Linked DNA regions of Homo sapiens. The protein of the gene in region 2 purifies or fractionates together with the protein of the main gene of each other region. This does not show direct contact. Each region holds a gene or a part of one and is shown on either strand. Other genes may lie near its edges.

Region 1 (8,664 bases), on a different chromosome or scaffold from region 2:
TTGTTCCTCTCCGTCCTCACAATACAATGGAGTGGGTGTGGCCACTCCCCTCTGCAGCTTGAAAAGGTTAAGTCCTATGATTAGTCATGACTAAGAGAGATATATAAGTCTATAAGGTGTATATATATGACTAAGATATATATATCCATAAGGTGTATGTATGTGTATGCATATGTATAGACATATATATACACGTCTATGTATAGACATATATGTATGTACATATGTCTATGTATAGATATATATGTATGTCTATACATAGACATATATATGTCTATATACACACACAGATACACCTTATGGATATATATATATCTCAGTCTCATATATACACCTTATAGATTTATATATGTATACACATACATGTATATATGTGTATATACACATACATGTATATACACACATATACATATATACATATATGTGTATATATATACACACATACACACACATGTACACACAGGTACACACACATAGATACACCTTATGGATAGCCACCAAATATATATGCCATGTACCAAATCATGCAATTGATTTCACTAAATGTACTTTTTATCAAATGAATACTGATACTTATAAAATGGAGTGAATATCTTTTGTTAAATTGCCTTTGAAACTGCCAATTAAATTCATTTTGTTTGGCAGTATCATTTTTAAAAAAAAAACATAATAAACATAGTGCCTGAATTGCCTATCTAGTCAGCTATTTACAATAAGGTTCCCCACTCATAGATGAAAATGAGATCATTGTCCCAGTGAAAAAGGAACAACCTCAAAGCATCTTATCCTCACTTAAGCTCAATCTTACCTTCAGCATATTAATTCCCAGAACTATGTTCTTCTCCAAATTCTACGAAATCAGGGCTACTGATTTCTTCAGGAGACATCAAAAATTTGGAGAGCTAAGCTTCTGCCAGTTGGCAAAAGCAGCTTTCAATCAGCTACCTGAATTATTTTAGGAGGCTGGAGGCATCACTATTTCCAAAAGCCATACTGCTAAATCAACAGGAAGATTACAGGCTTTTGGAATCAAGTTCTCAGACTGTGGTCTTCAGTTTTTCTTGAAAGCTGCTTATAAAAGAAGGACTGTGTGAAACTTTGATATTTACATCAAGTCACAACTAAGGGGCAGGTTTGCAAAATCAATTGTGCAGCTTTTATACTCACTGCACATTTACCACATATGTCCTTTATTACACAGTGGAAAACCATTAAATGCACAGTAGTTTTGCCAAGTGGCATTATGCATTTAACAGCTTTATTCGTTTAACAGCTCCAACTCTCATTATATTTTGCCATGTGGTACATGGGATTTTATGCATTTAACAGTTTAAGAAGGCTCTATGGTATTTTCTTTTCATGTATTTCATACTATGGTTGGACATTATGTCTTAGCAAACTGTATTTCACTGATTTCATTGAAGAGAGAAAGTCAGAGTAATCTGGAAAACTTACTACACTGAAATTGAAAAGGGAAACAAACATTTCAATCCCTTTCCAAGTTCCTTGATATTCTACTCCCCTCCTTTTATCAACATCTAAAAATAACCTATATCAGGTTAAAACTGCAGGTAAAGAAGGCTAACCCTGTACTCTATAATTAATCTAAATATAACATTTAACTACAGTTTGAAGTTTTTCAGTTTTAAAAATTTAATTTTTATTGAAAACCTTCTTGCTTAATAGAAATACAATACTCAGTCACTTCCTTTCTTTATAGCACACAACAGAAGATTTGTTAGGGAGATGATCAACCATTTGATTATTTACATATGTAGGGATGAAAACATTTGTCATATAAGGACACAGAGGAAATCAAGCTCAGAATCAAAGGACTCTCAAAATTATGCTTTAACTAACTTTTATTTCCTCCACTCTGCATTAGGTGTTCGCCCTAGGTATACATAAGTGAGCATGCACCTCAAACCTAGGATTCTAGGTTTGGGCAGAAGTTGTCCCTTTAAATGAAGAATTGAAGCAGATAGTAGATCCCATCAACTGTTGCTGCTTTCAGAAATAAAAAACCTAAGCATCTGTCTGCTCTTTTCCCCAGAGCATTACATTCTCCACAATCCCAGAACTCTGAAAAATTTTACTGGATAAGCTTCTGTGTTTTTCTGTTAAAAGATTTTAGCACTTACTCTGCACTCCCCCCACGTGTGTTTTCTCCTGAAAAAATCAACTGTATTCTGTACATAAAAGAAACACCTGACATCAAAAGGTGTCTCTGGGGCTGGGGAAAAGTGGTTATTATAACAGAGTTGGACATTCCCCTTGTGGGAACAGGAAAGGTGATGAGACTTGGCTAAAACTTGGTCTCAGAAAGGTGCTGTTATATACATTCTAAGTTTTGTTCATACACACACACACACACACACACACACACACACATATATAAAGGGAGAGAAACAAAAGGGTACATTGCAGTGTTTAGAATAAGGAGAGAAATCATTCGAGGCTAATTTTTTTTAATCTTTAAAAGAAAAAAGGTCAAGTTTTGGCTTCATCTCTATTTTGAACTCCAATGGGAATAAAAGCAAACTAGAGTAAAAGGCAGAACATGACAGGTTTCTTGGGGGTTATTACTGTTATTATTATTATAGGAACAGATGTATTTTTATTGGTGGAGGAAGGAGAAGGATCTAATTCCAGCCCTCGATTTTGCTTTTTTAAAAACCACTCACCTGACTTTTATTTGCAGCCACTTTGGCAAACAGGGCTTGAGACACCTTGGCCCTTTTCATCTCCTGTTGGATCTCGTCATAAATGGCAGCTGTGATGTTGATGTTGGCGCCGTCCACCTTAATAGGGAGGTCTGTTGTCGGTGTCGAGGTTTTGGCCTACCAAGAGACCATGAAAATAATAATTTAAAAAGTGCTGCATTCAGCCCAGCCATCTGTGCAGAAATTATCAAAGGATTTCAGTCAGCTGATGCCAAACTGCATTAGCTACAGAGGGACACTTCCTGTCCATTATTCTAATCAGGTTAATTGTGATTGGAAATAATTGCAGTGCATTCCTATAGGACATGCAGAATCCTGTCAACCCTGTTCTCTCACAGCATCCCAGACGAAGGTTCACAGGTAGGATGGCTCTCCTAGACACCAAACTATAAGCAACCATCTAACTACAAAACAAACATGCAGAACACACACACAGTTAACCTTTTCTTTCTAAAAATGGCACACCTTGGAATAAGAGCCAATTCTTCCAGAAAAAAAATAAGTAAATGGGTAGAGGTCTCTAAATAATAAATTATTACTCAATTTAATGCACTCCCAAGTCTCTCTTATTCTTTATTAAAGCTTTACATATGTCATTCGAGTATGTATGGTTTCCCATCATTATCATCATTATGCTACCCAGACAGTCACCTAATTTCACCTAGGAAATCAGTGGAAATGAAACAAAATTTCATTTCATAAAACTAGGCTTCACAATGCCTTTGATGTGCCGTTTTCATTTTCTTAAACTCATATTGCGGTTTTATGTATTCTGCAGTGCTCGTTTTAATTGAATGATTTCCCATCAGCTTCAGAGACAAATGAAGGACAATATAGAAGTCTGTACTTCTTGGGGTTAGGATAACCCTAAAATGTCTGAATCTACTTAATCCAAAAGACGGTCATAACATTTACTTGGTGTGAGCCCTAGAATGCATTGCTGGTGTCTAATAAGAGAGGGCTGAGACATTTTCTTAGAACCTCTGGCAGCAAGATTTCAGGAAAAGACATCCTTGATCCTTGTGCACTACCAGCCGAATTGGCCTAACCTGGGTTTTTTCTCTTTGTCCCCATTCACCCTAGAATCTCAAACCAACAGAGTTATCTCCAAATCACAAGTTTCCCTGTGCGGATGCCCTGAGCTGTTCTCTACTGGATCCAGCAGTATGCAGGTCCAGAGAAAGATGTAACAGGCAGTGTGGACTCTGTGACAAATGGTGTCTAGCGGCAGAACTTAAGGCCCTACGTTTCCATAAAGGCTTTGCTTCCTAACAGTGCTCAGTAACTTCTGCCATTTTTCTTCTACCTCCTTCTCTCATACTATTTTCTAATTACCGCAAAGCAATAATTACTATAATTTATGGCGTGCTTTTTATGGGCCAGGTACTCCAGAAAGCATTTTAACATTTGTTTTCACATTTAATTCTTTTAAGATTCCAATGAGTTAGATATTATTATTTTCATCTTACAGATGAAGAAACTGAAATAAAAGAGGATCTTAACCTAGGACACCCAGCAGCCAGTGAAGGAACCATGATCTGAACGCAAGTCTTTCAGGCTCAAAAACATGGGCTCAGGACACTGCACTACACACTGCCTCCAAAATCTCCAATTTATGCCAGGTGCTGTTGTAAGAATTTTCTTGCTATGTTGGGACTTTCCCATTAAAAATTCAATTATCTGTAATTTTTTAAAATAAACTATTTGTTCTGCTCAAAATTTCTAGTTAACCCACAGTGCTTTCCCTGTTAAGAGAACGTTTTAGCATAGCATGTCTGCCCTTTCTCAATTCAGTTTTCTTAATTTGCCTCACTGACTATCTCATCCTACCTGATTGGTCAAGCCTTCTCTCCAACCATGAGGGCTAAGACGAAACCCCTCAGCCATGTGCCCTTACACAAGTTACTGAATCCATCTAAACCTCAGTTCCCTCATCTGTAAAATGGGCATAATACCATAAAATGGTGACAACTGAATTCATGCAAAATGTTCACAACACCTAATACACAGTAAGCGTTTTAACAAATGATCATTCTTATCTTAGTATTGTTTTGTCATTATTAAGTACACCATGGAATGCTGGCCAGCTGAAGAAATAAAAAGAGACTGGAGGTATAATTTCAAATTTCAAATTTCTTCAATTTGTTTTTCAGCTACTAATAAAGTATAGATGGGGTCTGGAAAATAATCTCCCTGCATCAATGTCAAGCTGCTTGTGTGCACTAAATTGCTGACTCCAACTAAAAGGCTGAGTCAGTGAGTACTCCTCTAATACTTGTTCTCACAATAAAATCTGTACTGTACTACGATCTTTACTGTTGAGATATGACTGTAAAGAATTTTAAGTCAGTAATCATGAAATGTTTTAAAAGACTTTAATAAACTCTCCTTTCTCAATCTTTACCCAAGAGAAAAAGACAATTCTAGAGAATGTACAAATGCAATGCCATGACCGTATTCTCAAAAACATGTTTAAATATTTATTTTCAAAAATATCAAAACTGTGATATTAAATAAGAGATTTCCCTGCTACACCTATCCCTAAAGGGCATCTGTATGAATTTTCTAGATGGCATTCTGGTCAAAATAAGCAAAATACTGACCCTAACTGTGGGGCCTTGTAAGTCAGTCTGGCACTGAAAGCTATTAGGTCTTTGAAAAGGTGCCTACGATATATAATCTTGTTAGGAAAATAGTACAAAAGAGCTGAAAACAAATACACAGACCTGTGTTAATTTCTAACAAGCAGAAGTAACTTTCTAAGAAGAGCTGCCTTGTCAAATGGCCATGAAGTATGCCTGGGCTCTTCTATAATGGTTTAATGGGCTTCAAAAGTGGCAAAAATATTGATGAATTTAGCAGAAGTAAATATTAGTGCACATTAACAACTTGCCCAACTTACTAGCTCAGTATGTATGTCCCCAGATTTTTTTTTAAGTAAACAAAAATGCTTGGTTATACTCATCCAAAGTAAGCAGTCAAGAGACTTATTTTTGGTTCAAACAGTAACTAAAACTCATAATTCACTAAAGACTGAAGTGTAAGTAACACAATTTGGCAGTGCATGATAGAAAGTAATCTTCAATTAAAAGTTTATTGCAGAGTACAAAAATATAAAAAGAGTTAAAATGTGTGAAAAAATGGATATACTTGAAAAAGCTCAAATATTTCTACTAGGATACAATTCTGCTTCTATGCTTAATCAGTTCCTTAGAATTTATCAGAAAACGCAAAACCAAAGCTATAATATCTAAGCAAAACAACCTTTGGTTTTGAACCGCCCATTTTTCAGCTTTGTATAAATGTATATCCATTAGGTCGGGCACGGTGGCTCATGCCTGTAATCCCAGCACTTTGCAAGGCCGAGGTGGGCAGATTACTTGAGGTCAGGAGTTCGAGACCAGCATGGACAACATGGTGAAACCCAACCTCTACTAAAAATACAAAAAATTACCCTGGTGTGGTGGCATGTGCCTGTAATCCCAGCTACTCGGGAGGCCGAGGCAGGAGAATCACTTGAACCTGAGAAGCAGAGGCTGCAGTAAGCCATGATCACACCACTGCACTCCAGCCTGGGCAACAAAGTGAGACTCCTTCTCAAAAACAAACAAAAAAAATTTATACCTGTTAAATACTGGTTTTGAGAATTAGCACTCAGACAGAACCTGCAACTATCATAGCAACAGTGAACGGACTGGCCTTATCATAAATCTATCGAGTAGTAAAAGTTTAGGGGAAATAGGGGATAGGCCAGAAATGAGTGGGCTTGGATGTGAACTAGAAATGACCCCTGACTGCCTTGAGACCTTGACCCTTGAGTTAGGAGCTTTGAAGCACACATTACTAGATGTATACATTTGCATGAGGGCCTAAGAAAAGAATACTTTTCAAGTGTGTGGAGAGGAAGAATGGAAGTCACCAAATTCTGTGGGGAGATCATCCTAGGATGGAAAATAATTAAGGCCTACCTTTCCACCATCATTTTCTAAAGGATCATTGAGTGACATCTCAGTCATTCTGATCTGGACACTGCATATGCATGCTTCCACTGCAAGTGTTCCTCCATTTTGTCTTTTTCAGATTACATAAAACAGAGCTTCAACTACCCTCTGCCCCCTGCCCTCAGCCACCTCTACCCCATCCAGCCCAACCAAATAAACATACAATTTGAGGGAAAGCAGTGTGCTTGCTATGCAAACTCAGCTTCAACACAAATGCCCTAACTCCTAACTGAGCAGCTATGTATAAACATCCTAGAGCCCGCCCCTGTGCCCACTCCTACCTTCCTACCCCTCACCTACCACGTATGGAAGAATGGGACTTCCTAAAGGGACAGAAATATAGTATGGGATCATATATGGTCAGAAGTTCATATCCTCTGACCAACATGTTCAGCGGATTAAGAAATCATAGAATTGGCCATGGACGGTGGCTCACGCCTGTAATCCCAGCACTTTGGGAGACCAAGGCAAGCGGATCACCTGAGGTCAGGAGTTCGAGAAGAGCCTGGCCAACATGGTGAAACCCCATCCCTACAAAAAATACAAAAATTAGCAGGGCATGGTGGTTGGTGCCTCTAATGCCAGCTACTTGGGAGGCTGAGACAGGAGAATTCCTTGAACCCAGGAGGCGGAGGCTGCAGTGAGCCGAGATCATGCTACTGCACTCCAGCCTGTGTGACAAAGCAAGACTCCATCTCAAAAAAATTAAAATAAAATAAAATAAAATAAGAAAAGAAAAAAAGGAAAGAAATCCTTGAATTATGTCTCTCAATGTTTGAGGGAAAACACAGTAACTAGTGAAGGCAAGATGTTTCCAAGACAAAGAGTGAAAAATACGGAAAGCAAGTTTCTCACCTGAGGGGTTCGGGAGGAGCTGGGACTGCTGGAGGCCGAGGAGACCATGCTCACATTGGGATTCATGCTCCGCTCCCTCTCATCCTGGTAGATGCGATCTCGCTCCACTTCTGGCAGATTGAGGAAATTCTGCATGGCCCTCAGGTTTACTAGAAGAGACTGAGAGGCTGTCCGAGGGTCTTCTTCCTTACGCAGAATCTCAGACAACAATCCCTGATTAAATGGGGGAAAAAAACAGACCAAGTCACATTTGCAGGTATATGTGTGTGGTTTCTGTCTTCCACCCCTCTCCTCCTTTGTTTGGTTTAACCAGCTCGCTGTGATGTCAAGAACCTCACACTAATTCCTTAGGGTTCTCCGATATGAAGTCAATGTGCTTGCCTTCCGGGGGATATGCATTATTTTAGGACTGTTCTATTCTGACACTTTATCATCACTGTAATAATCATCAGTGTACAGACATGCCAGCTAGCAAGGTAGGCACTTGGGAAGAATTGTGAAACTGCAATTACCACCAGGTGCCTCCTACAAGTATTTCAGGAACTGTTAGAACTCTCTCTGCTTGAAACTGGGAACACTTGGCAGTCCTGCTTAGCTTTACAAATCTGCCAAGTTTGGTAAATTTAGTTTCGACATTTAAACAGCATGGTAGATTTACATCAATTTAAAAAAAAAACTGGCTGAATTTCTGTATGACCGGCCACTGTTTTCAATAGAGATATTTCTTATGCAAAAAAAAAAAAAAAAAGACGCAAAGCAAATGGCTAAATTGTGTTAACCCTCTGATAATTTCCCAATCTATACACACAATAGTTATCCTTACATATGTACAAAGGGCACCCAAATCTTTCATGAGACGTCTTCATGGGGGAAACCCTAATGTCACCATTAAAGCAATGAAAATGAAGTCACCTCTGGCGAGGGGCTGAGCACACTGTAATAACAGTGTGCACGGAATGCCATGATAGGCCCAGATACTTTCTGAATGTGTGACTCACCCAAATAGAAAGATTTAAATAGGAAGTCAGGGTTTTCATGTGCTCTGACGACAGAGAATTCACAAAGAAAAGGAAAATGCTGCCAAG
Region 2 (8,821 bases):
TTTACTTCAAAGTGGAATGAAGAGTGAAAAGAGGAGGATTTGCCAAAAAAGAAAAAAGTACTCAGAATCACCCAGATTGTAAATTTTTAAGCGTCTAGAGATCCAAAGCCTGTTTTTTCTTTTTTCCCCCCTCTATCTTTGGGAGTCTGGAAGGTATTCTACAATCTCAGTCCCAATAAAATACTCATGCAATTTTATTTCTAGTTGATACAATTTTAAAGGCCATGTACAAATGTTATACATTTTTATTTTTGTTCTTTTTTTAGGAAAAAATACACAAAAGGCAAAACATCCTCAAATGGTCCTTTTATACAGTGCAGAAGGAAATTTCAAATTTCAAATACGTGTCACAAATGCTGCACTCTAGCAGCCAAAATACAAAAAAAAAAAAGGAGGGTAGTCCTTCATATTATATATATATTTATATAAAACATATGGAAATTTGTTTTTACACAGATCGGTCTTTGTTTCAAATTTACAATGGATATCTAAAAAAAATTCTACACGGCAAATATTGCCAACAAAGTTACACCATTAATACTGATAAACGGAGGAGCCTACGCGGTGTTTTGATTATTAGGGAAAGAAAGTAGAATAAATAAACAGGAGCCTTGCTATAGTTTTTAAAAGTGCCTTAACCTTTCTGCGTCCCCGCAATCCTGAATCCGCGCGGTCACCGGGCCGTCCTAGTCCCTGCGTCGCGCTGTGTTCGGCTCGTTCTCGGACCAGAAAGTTTACAGTAGAGGTTGGGAGACAGAAAAATACCCACTGAAAAAGTCTAAATAAAATTCAAGACAAAACATAACAGAAGAGGCTGAAGCGAAGGAAGAGGAGGAACATGGAAGGGGACGGAGGCGGACGCCCGGACGGCCGCTTGCTTCGTGGCTCCTTTGACTTTCTGTTTAAAGACGGACAGTGGCTTCCGAAATGCAAGTTGTTCGCACAAAGATCCACCTGTGGTCCACGGAGGAGACTTCGGAGGTGGGGAGGGAGATCGGGAGGGAGATCTGAGCTCTTGTCACTTCCCGCTCCCTGCAAAAGACGGCTCTAAAGGGAGACTTGCGCATTCCAAGACATTCTTTCAAAAAAAAAATAAAAAATAAAAAGATAAATACTCAACCAAAAAATAAAAGTATTTGATAATGATTGGTCTCACATGTTTGCTTTTCTTCTAAAAATTTTCCCCCACTTCTGCCATTGGCCGGAAGGAGGGGGGACCTCAGCAGAATTCCTGTGTGGGTGCGGGGGCTTTCCCCTGCACAGCACCGTCTCAGGCGGGTTCAACAGGATCAAAAACTTTTATTTACCGATGGCTGCAGTCAGATCAGACCCACCACTAACATTTCTTAACAATTTTGAAGGAGTGAGGAAGGAGGTGCCAACCGCAGCGCTGTGTCTTTGCATTGGGGACTCCTTGCCAAAAACTCCGGTTGGGGAGAGGTGGAACCCTTTTCTTCTGCCGACGGTTATACCTCGAGAAGAAAGCAGTTTCTTGTGCCGGTCCAGGGTCCCTGTGACCCGCCTGCCTGCACCAGGAGGGCCTGCGGCGGCAGCCTCACATCACGCAAGGCTTGATGTCTTGGTAGGTGACCTGCTGGTGGTAGTAGGAGCCCCCGCCGGCCGAGTGCATGGAAGAGGACGCCATGGCGTTGAAAGAGAAGACAAACTCCTTTCGGTCACACATGCTGGGCGACTGCGAGTGATACCGCGGGATGCCTGCAAGGCGAGGCGACAGGAGGGGTTGGGGGAGCAGAAGAGTTAGCCACGGTGGCTCAGAGTTCAGGCAGAGGAGCAGTGCTCCCGTGGGGCGCACAGGGCCTGTCAGCCTGGCTCCAGAGCACGGCCGCCTCCCCGCTCTCCTCCCCGAGTCCCGGCCTTCCAGCTGCGCACCCAAGGAAAAGACTCCAGAACACTTGCCACGGCCTGCCTGCCTGCCTGCCTGCCTGCCTGCTGCGTGCCTGTCCAGCCTCGGACACCGTGCAGGGGCCCAGGGCTTCCAGAGCCATAGGGGAAGTGGTGAGGGAGACCAAGTGGAGGGCCCCTAACGCCCATGGCCGTCACCGCCAGGGCAGCCACCACCACCCCCAACCTCAGAGGCTACGACTGCCGGCGGGGTTGAAGGAGAGGCCAGTGCAGGGCCAGCGCCGGGCCAGCAGCAGGGGTGAGAAGAAGCTTCTCCAGAGAACAGGCCCCGGAGCCGGGGAGTCCCCCGCAGAGAGGCTGCCTAAGGCCTCCAGGCCTGGCTCCTGCCTCCTGGGGCTGCTGACAGCTGACCCTGGACTGGCCCTGGCAAGCTCACTCCAGCTTTTTCCAGAGCTGGGCCTGCAGGCTGCGGGGGGCCTGGGGCAGAATCAGGAGGCGAGGCTGCTGCATCTCCCTTGGCAGATGCTTCTGCATGTTCGGGGTATTGGGGTATCAGGGGTGTTGGGGGTGTGGGGACCTGAAAACTTGGATCCTAAAAAACAAGGAGCCCCCATGGCCCGGTCTGCAGCTCTGACCCTCCGGGGCCTGGCCACGGCACCCTCCTGCCTCAGTCACCACAAAATGCCCCTGGACTCAGCTGTGGGTCTGCCAGGTCTGGTCCCCTGAAAGGCCGGGGCTGAGCCTCTGAGCGCTGGCCCAGCGGCTTTGGGCCTAACACCTTCCGTTCCGCCCAGCCCCAGGCAGAGGCAGCCCTCCAGGCAGCCTGAGGGCCACCACCAGGGAGGGACAGCCATCTGGCCAGCGCTGGGAGCCTTGGGTCCATCCCAGGATCTTTCCAAGCTGTGAGGGGACTTAAGGGACACAAAAGGACTTAGGGCACTGGGGTCTGGGACATCTGGCTCAGGACCAGCCTACCTGGTCAGGCCTGGAGCAGCTGGCAGCTGGAGTTCGAACAGAAAGAGAAACAGATTGGCCCAAACTAGGGTCAAGAGCGGTAGTCACTCTTCGAAGGGGGAGAGGTGGGGCCAAGAGACACCTTGGGGAGCTGGTGCCTCCCCTCAGCCTTGGGGTTCCGACCACAGAAGTGGAGGGGCTCGCCCCAGCTGGGTCCCGCTGCCACTCAGACTCGACTTCCCGGGGACCAGGGCGCCCTCGGCCTCCCCACTCACCTTGCAGCTCGGCTGGGGCGTTGTGGCTGTTCTGGTGCAGATACGGCTGCTCCAGGGAGTGCGTGGAGAGGCTGCCGGACAGGGGGTTGGCCGCGGGGTTACAGGGGGACAGGGGCTGCTGCTTGATATAAGAGGCGCCGCTGTTGAGCGCCGCGGACGCCGAGGGCGGCCAGGCCGCCGCCGAGCCCGAGTAGACGGCGTGCGGCTCCATGACCCCACCGGCGCCGGTGGGCAGCAGCGGGGAGGCGGGCACCGAGCTGTCGTGGTGCGGGTACTCGCCGGCCGCCGCGCCGCCGCAGCCGCCCATGTACGAGTGGCCGCCGTTGGAAGGCAGGTGGGGCACCGAGTGGCTGGGCAGGGCCATGCCGTCCACGTTGCCCGGCAAGTGGCCGTTCATCATGCCCAGGCCGCCCTCCAGCGCCAGGCTGTTGGGCGGGCACGAGAGGCCGCCGGCCGAGCCCTGGAAGCCGTAGGTGTCCGGGAGGTGGTTGAAGCCGAGCCCGTTCATCATGCTGTACATGGGCTTGAGCGCCTGGCATTTCCTTCGGAAGCCGCGCGGCCGCCGCCGAAAGGAGCCCTCCTCGAACATGAACTCGCTGGCCGGGTCGATGGTCCAGTAGTGGCCCTTGCCGGGCCGCCCAAGGCCCTTGGGTAGCTTGATGAAGCACTCGTTGAGCGAGAGGTTGTGGCGCACGGAGTTCTTCCAGCCCTGGTAGGAGCCCCGGAAGAAGGGGAAGCGGCTCTGCAGGAACTGGTAGATCTCGCTCAGCGTCAGGCGCTTGGTGGGTGAACTCTGGATGGCCATGACGATGAGCGCGATGTAGGAATAGGGCGGCTTCTCCGGGCGCCGGATGCCGGCGTTGGTCTTCTTGGCCTTGGACGGGCCGGACGACGCGGGGTCCATGGCCGCGCCGCCTCCCCCGCCGCCGCCGCCGCCGCCGCCGTGCGGTGGCTGCTGCTTCTCGGGCGCCGAAGACATCGGGTGGCTGCTGCCGCCGCCGCCGCTGCCGCCGCTGCTCTGCGCCGCGGACGGGCCGGGAGGAGGAGGAGGAGGAGGAGGAAGAGGACGACGGGGGGGAGGAGGGCGAAGGGGAGGGGGCTGCGCGCGCGGGGCTGGCTGCACCTCTGCCGTCATCGGCGGCCACTTCTCCCGAGCGAGCCGCGGCGCGCCCGCCCCCGCGCTCCCGCCCGCCCTCCCCGAGGAGCTGCTGGATCCGCCGGCGGTTGGCTCAGAGCCCCTCTCTCTCCAACTCCCGCCTCCCCCACCTCTCTCCTCCCTCTTTCTTTCTCGCCCTCCCACAAGGAAAGGAGCCGAGCTGAGGCCGAGGGCAGCCCGGGCGAAGGCCGTGAGGAAGCTACCCCCGCCGGTATTTTTTGGGGGGAGGCACCACCTCCAGGTCTTACGGCCGTGCGCCCCAGCCGGGAGCAGCCCTGAGTCCCCGCCGCCCGCGGCGCTCGGCTCCGAGATTCCGGGCGAGGCAGCCTTCACTCCATCTCCGCTCGGCTGCGTCTCGCGGGTCGGCCTAAGACCCTCCCGGAGTTCCCTCCCTCCGTCCCTGCCCCCCTCGGGCCCCCGCGTTGGTGGGCGCTTAAAGAGCCCCCACTCTCGCCGCCCCGCGGCCGCCAGCAGAATCCGCCCCGCCTCCACCAACCTGGCGAGCAAGTGTTAATGCGCCCTCCGCCCGCGGTTCAGCCCCGGTGCGCGCTGGACCCCGCCTTCCCCGCCCGGGCGGCGCGGCGGGAAACGCTCCCTGGGCCGGGGCCTTCCCCGACGCGCACAGCCCTGTAGCAAATCGCAAGTGCGGCGGCCTCCCGGTCGTGACCATCGCAGGCACAGCCGGCTCGACTCCGGTCCTCGCGGCCGGCCGGCTAAGTTCCCGCGAGGGACCGCCTACCCACTCTCCCCGCCCCGGGAAGAACTGCGCCGCTCCCGGGATTTTTCGGACTCGCCCAGCAGCTTGCGAGCGGGCGGGCAGCCGCCGGGGCAGAGCGCAGGCGGAAAACGAAAGCGCAGCACGAGTCGCGGCCGCTTTGTCTCGGGCGCCGCGGGCCTGACGGGGGCGAGTGAGAACCCGCTGGCCCAGAGGCGACCCAGACCGCACAGGCCCCTGAATAAGCGGCGTGCTCAGTCACTCACCCGTGCGCGCACACCCTCGCGCTCTTGTCCACACATTAGCACACACATACATGTCTTGATGCACATGCAAACCCGGTAAATTACGCAAACAGACGTGTAAACACACCCATGCGTGTGTGCACACTCATATGCAGAGGGCGCTCAGGCATGTGCGCACCCACTAATGCACTCGTTGACACGGAAGCTTAAGGCCCACAGGAGCTTAAGTTCGCACTCACTCCCACTCACGCGTACACACGCCACGCTCGGATCTGAACTCACACGTAGTTCAGTTGCCCTCCCCCACCCCCAACACACACTGAAAACCCGCCTATTTGGCCCCGCGGCCCCGTTTTCAAAGCGCAGGTTCCGATTTCCCGAGAGATGGCAAAGGCCCTGGCAGGAAGTTTACAGGGTTTAACGTAAACAAGTTCTGGGGGATTCTTTAATAATAATAATAGAGAATTCCGCGTGCGCAGGGCGGGAGGGGGGAGTTGGCCTAATGCCCCTGTGGGCTCGGCCTGCCGCCGCCGCGGGGCCTCTGACACTGCGCGCCAGGCCAGGTTCCTGAGAGCAGACAGCGCGGGCTGGGAGCGCCGGCAAGGGCGGCCCTCGCGCACCTGGCTGCCAGCCCGCAGGGGGCTCGCACGCAGACCTGCCCTTGCCACCTCAGCGCTCGGGTGCGGGCTGGGGGCGGTGGAGCCACGAAAGGTGGTGCCGAGAGCGGAGCGCAGGACAGCGCAGGAGCCCCGGCGCATCGCGGCGCGCACAGACCCAGGTGAGTGCTGCTCTCGCAGCGACTGCTGGCCGGGCGCGGCCTCTCCCTCCAGGGTTCCGAGTTGAGAAGAGGGGGGCGAGGGGTGTTTTCGCGGGTCATCGCGAAGAGCCTAGAGGCCAAGCCCCAGCGCGAGCTGGGGCGAGAGGCGTGTGCCGGGCTCGCAGCACGGCCCGCGGCGCGGCGCGTTCAAAGCCTACCCGCCTCTCGGTTTTCTCCGGACTCCTTGTCTCCCGCTAACTACCCGCCCCCACCTTCCTGGCTCGGACGCCTTCATTTTCGGCGGGAGACGCCTGTCGCCTTCGGGGCGCCTGGCACGTCGGTGAGAGGAGCTGGGGGGCTCGCCGGCGCAGCCTGCCGGGCAGTCGCCGCCTCCTCCGCCAGATCTGCGCTCGCGGGAGAAGAGAGCCGCCTTCCCGCGCTGCCCTTCCGCTGGCCTCTCTGGGTCTCCGCGTGCAGACAGCCTGGCCCGCCTAGGGAAAGAATGAGTGTGGGACGTGACCCGTAGTGTGTGGTTGTGCATTCACGCAGGTAAACGCTCTCTGGCAGACCCGCTACCACTTCACACAACCAGCTCAGCCTCCGCGCACACAGACACGCTCCGCACCGCCCACGGCCTCAAACACCCTTCCCAGCGACCCTCACACAGCTCAGGCGCTCCCAACCCTTGGACCAACACACAGGCCTGCCCAACGGGGAGGGCACACTTTGGTTTAAGTGCACACTTCATGCACGCCCACATGTTCTCCACTGCGCGTTCGCCCACGCATAGCCAGGCGCCACGCGCAAATAATCATAGGTACCGCCGCTCCATACGTGCGCACGCGTCCACGAACACAAGCATTCTCACATTCTCTCCCAACTTTTGTGTGTGTGTGTGTGGCAAATGGCAGTTGCAGATGAGGAGACCCTGGCCTCCGGAGGAAAGTTCTGTTCCCAGGAAGGGGTCGCTACTGCCGACTGCCAGAGCACATCTGGCCCTTAGCAGAGGTGAGCAGAGAAGGCTGCACAGCTCTTAAGCCAGCTAGGGGTGCAGGGCGCACGCTGCGGCTCGCTGAAAGTGGAAATAGCATCTCCCTTCCCCTCGCCCCTCCCCCACTCATGGGGCGCCTTCAAAGTGAGCGGGTCCCTAGAGCATGAAGTTGGGGAGCCCTTTCCCAGCAGACTCCTTCACTCCTGGGCCCTCTTCAGTTGGGGAAGGGAAGCCGCAGGTCCCATCGTTGGCTAACCCGGAGATCCATTTTTCCCTCCTTTCCACCCTTCTTTCTGCCCTTTCACCGGCTCTGATAGCAAACCAGACCTTACAGAACAGCCAGTCACGGAGCCCAGCGAAAGAGCCGGCCCAGTAGGCCTGGGAGTCTCAGGAAGGCCAAAGATGGAGGCTCTCCCCAACTGCTCATCTCTACTGCTGGGTGTGTGTAGAAGTGGGGGCGTGAGAGAGGAGGCGAATGAGCTCCCAGCTCTGTAATTTGGAGGGGACCCCCTGAATTCTGGGGAAAACCACAGCCGTAGCAAGAAGGGCTTTCCTTCATGCTCAGAGACTTCATTCTCAGCTCTTACAATGTCCCTGAGAGGTCTCCCTTGATCCTACATTTTTAGGGTGGAGAAACTGAGGCTCAGCATGGACTTGAATCTCTTATCAGCCAGCACTGAGAGGTGAACACTCTCCATCTCCCCTCTCTACGTCCAAGGACAAAATTTCCTGGCGTTTCACTCTCCCATGTGCCTCTGTGTAGGCGGGGAGTGGAGAGAATGGGGCTTAGAAATGCCTCTGCCATCATTACACAGCCCTGGCTTCCCAGGGCCAAGGGGACAGAGAGCCCCCGTTGGGGAACTGATGGTGATAAAATAGCAATGACAACTACGAATACTAGATAATAACAGGCTCATCCACTGCTGCCCAGGCACCAGGCGCTGCTCCTCACTCGATGAACTGCCCTTGTCTGCTCCTAACCTTCCTCTTGGCTGTCAATCCTTTGAAAATTAGTCCGACCTGCCCCCGCCCCCAGAAGGTGCATATTTGTGACATTCGTAGAATGATTTTGAAGGTTTCGCCAAATGTCTGGAGCCCATCTGTGAACCTGTGAGGCACCAACCATGAACTCAGGACACTGGTTAAGTGTCCCTAAGAGACTTGTGTAATATTCACCGATGCCCCTACCAAGTCAGTATAATTTCCCTCCTCATTCACAGTTGGAGCTCTGCGAGGTCACTCCAGGTCCTGGGTCACCCTGCAAAGCCAGTATCCAAACCTGGCCTGATTGCAGAACCAGGGCGTTAAGTGTCCTGACCACGGGGTGAGGCTCAGCGGTGCTCAGGGCAGAGGGGCCCCGCTGCCGCGAACCCCAAAGGCAGGGGGATTTGAACTCGCCCCACCATGTAAGGATGATGCATAAGCTCTTTGCACCTTAGTTTCTTTATCTGAAAAATGGAACTCATCATGGTTCCTATTTCTTGGGGTCGTACAGAGGGTTGGACAAGACCATGCAGGGAAGGCTTAGGTTGTACAAACAGAAACAAAAACCCCAGGGGCTCAGCTCCAGGGATGGAGGAGAAAATGCAGACAGGGACAGAGATCGCGGGCAGCCTTTTGCTCTTGGATTAAAATCCATGAAGACCGGCCCCCTCCCACCCCAAAACAAATCTGCGCCCCATCTCTGGCCCCAGGAATCCTGAAACTGGCCGAGCAGGGCGGGGGTGGGTGTGTAAAAACGGACACGACTGCAACGTCTCCCACTCCCCAGGCCCAAGGTATTTTTACTAGCTAATTGCTTAAGCGAAGCCGCCCGGGCCGAGAGCGCGCCGTAACCCGAGCGGGGAACCAGATCCCGCTCCGAG

What was found. Proteins that work in one complex are often made in the same cells at the same time.
Region 1: the proteins of FOXF1 (region 2) and SATB2 purify together in Homo sapiens (affinity purification with mass spectrometry; 2 studies listed by BioGRID and IntAct, with this or other methods). This does not show direct contact.

Annotation. Positions count from the first base shown.
Region 1 is NC_000002.12:199,321,119-199,329,782, forward strand, and holds part of SATB2 (DNA-binding protein SATB2), read right to left. Parts: intron 7,793-8,664; coding exon 7,580-7,792; intron 2,841-7,579; coding exon 2,685-2,840; intron 1-2,684. UniProt on the Homo sapiens protein: Binds to DNA, at nuclear matrix- or scaffold-associated regions. Thought to recognize the sugar-phosphate structure of double-stranded DNA.
Region 2 is NC_000016.10:86,505,820-86,514,640, reverse strand, and holds the start of FOXF1 (forkhead box protein F1), read right to left. Parts: upstream 4,115-8,821; 5' UTR 4,072-4,114; coding exon 3,093-4,071; intron 1,717-3,092; coding exon 1,556-1,716; 3' UTR 1-1,555. UniProt on the Homo sapiens protein: Probable transcription activator for a number of lung-specific genes.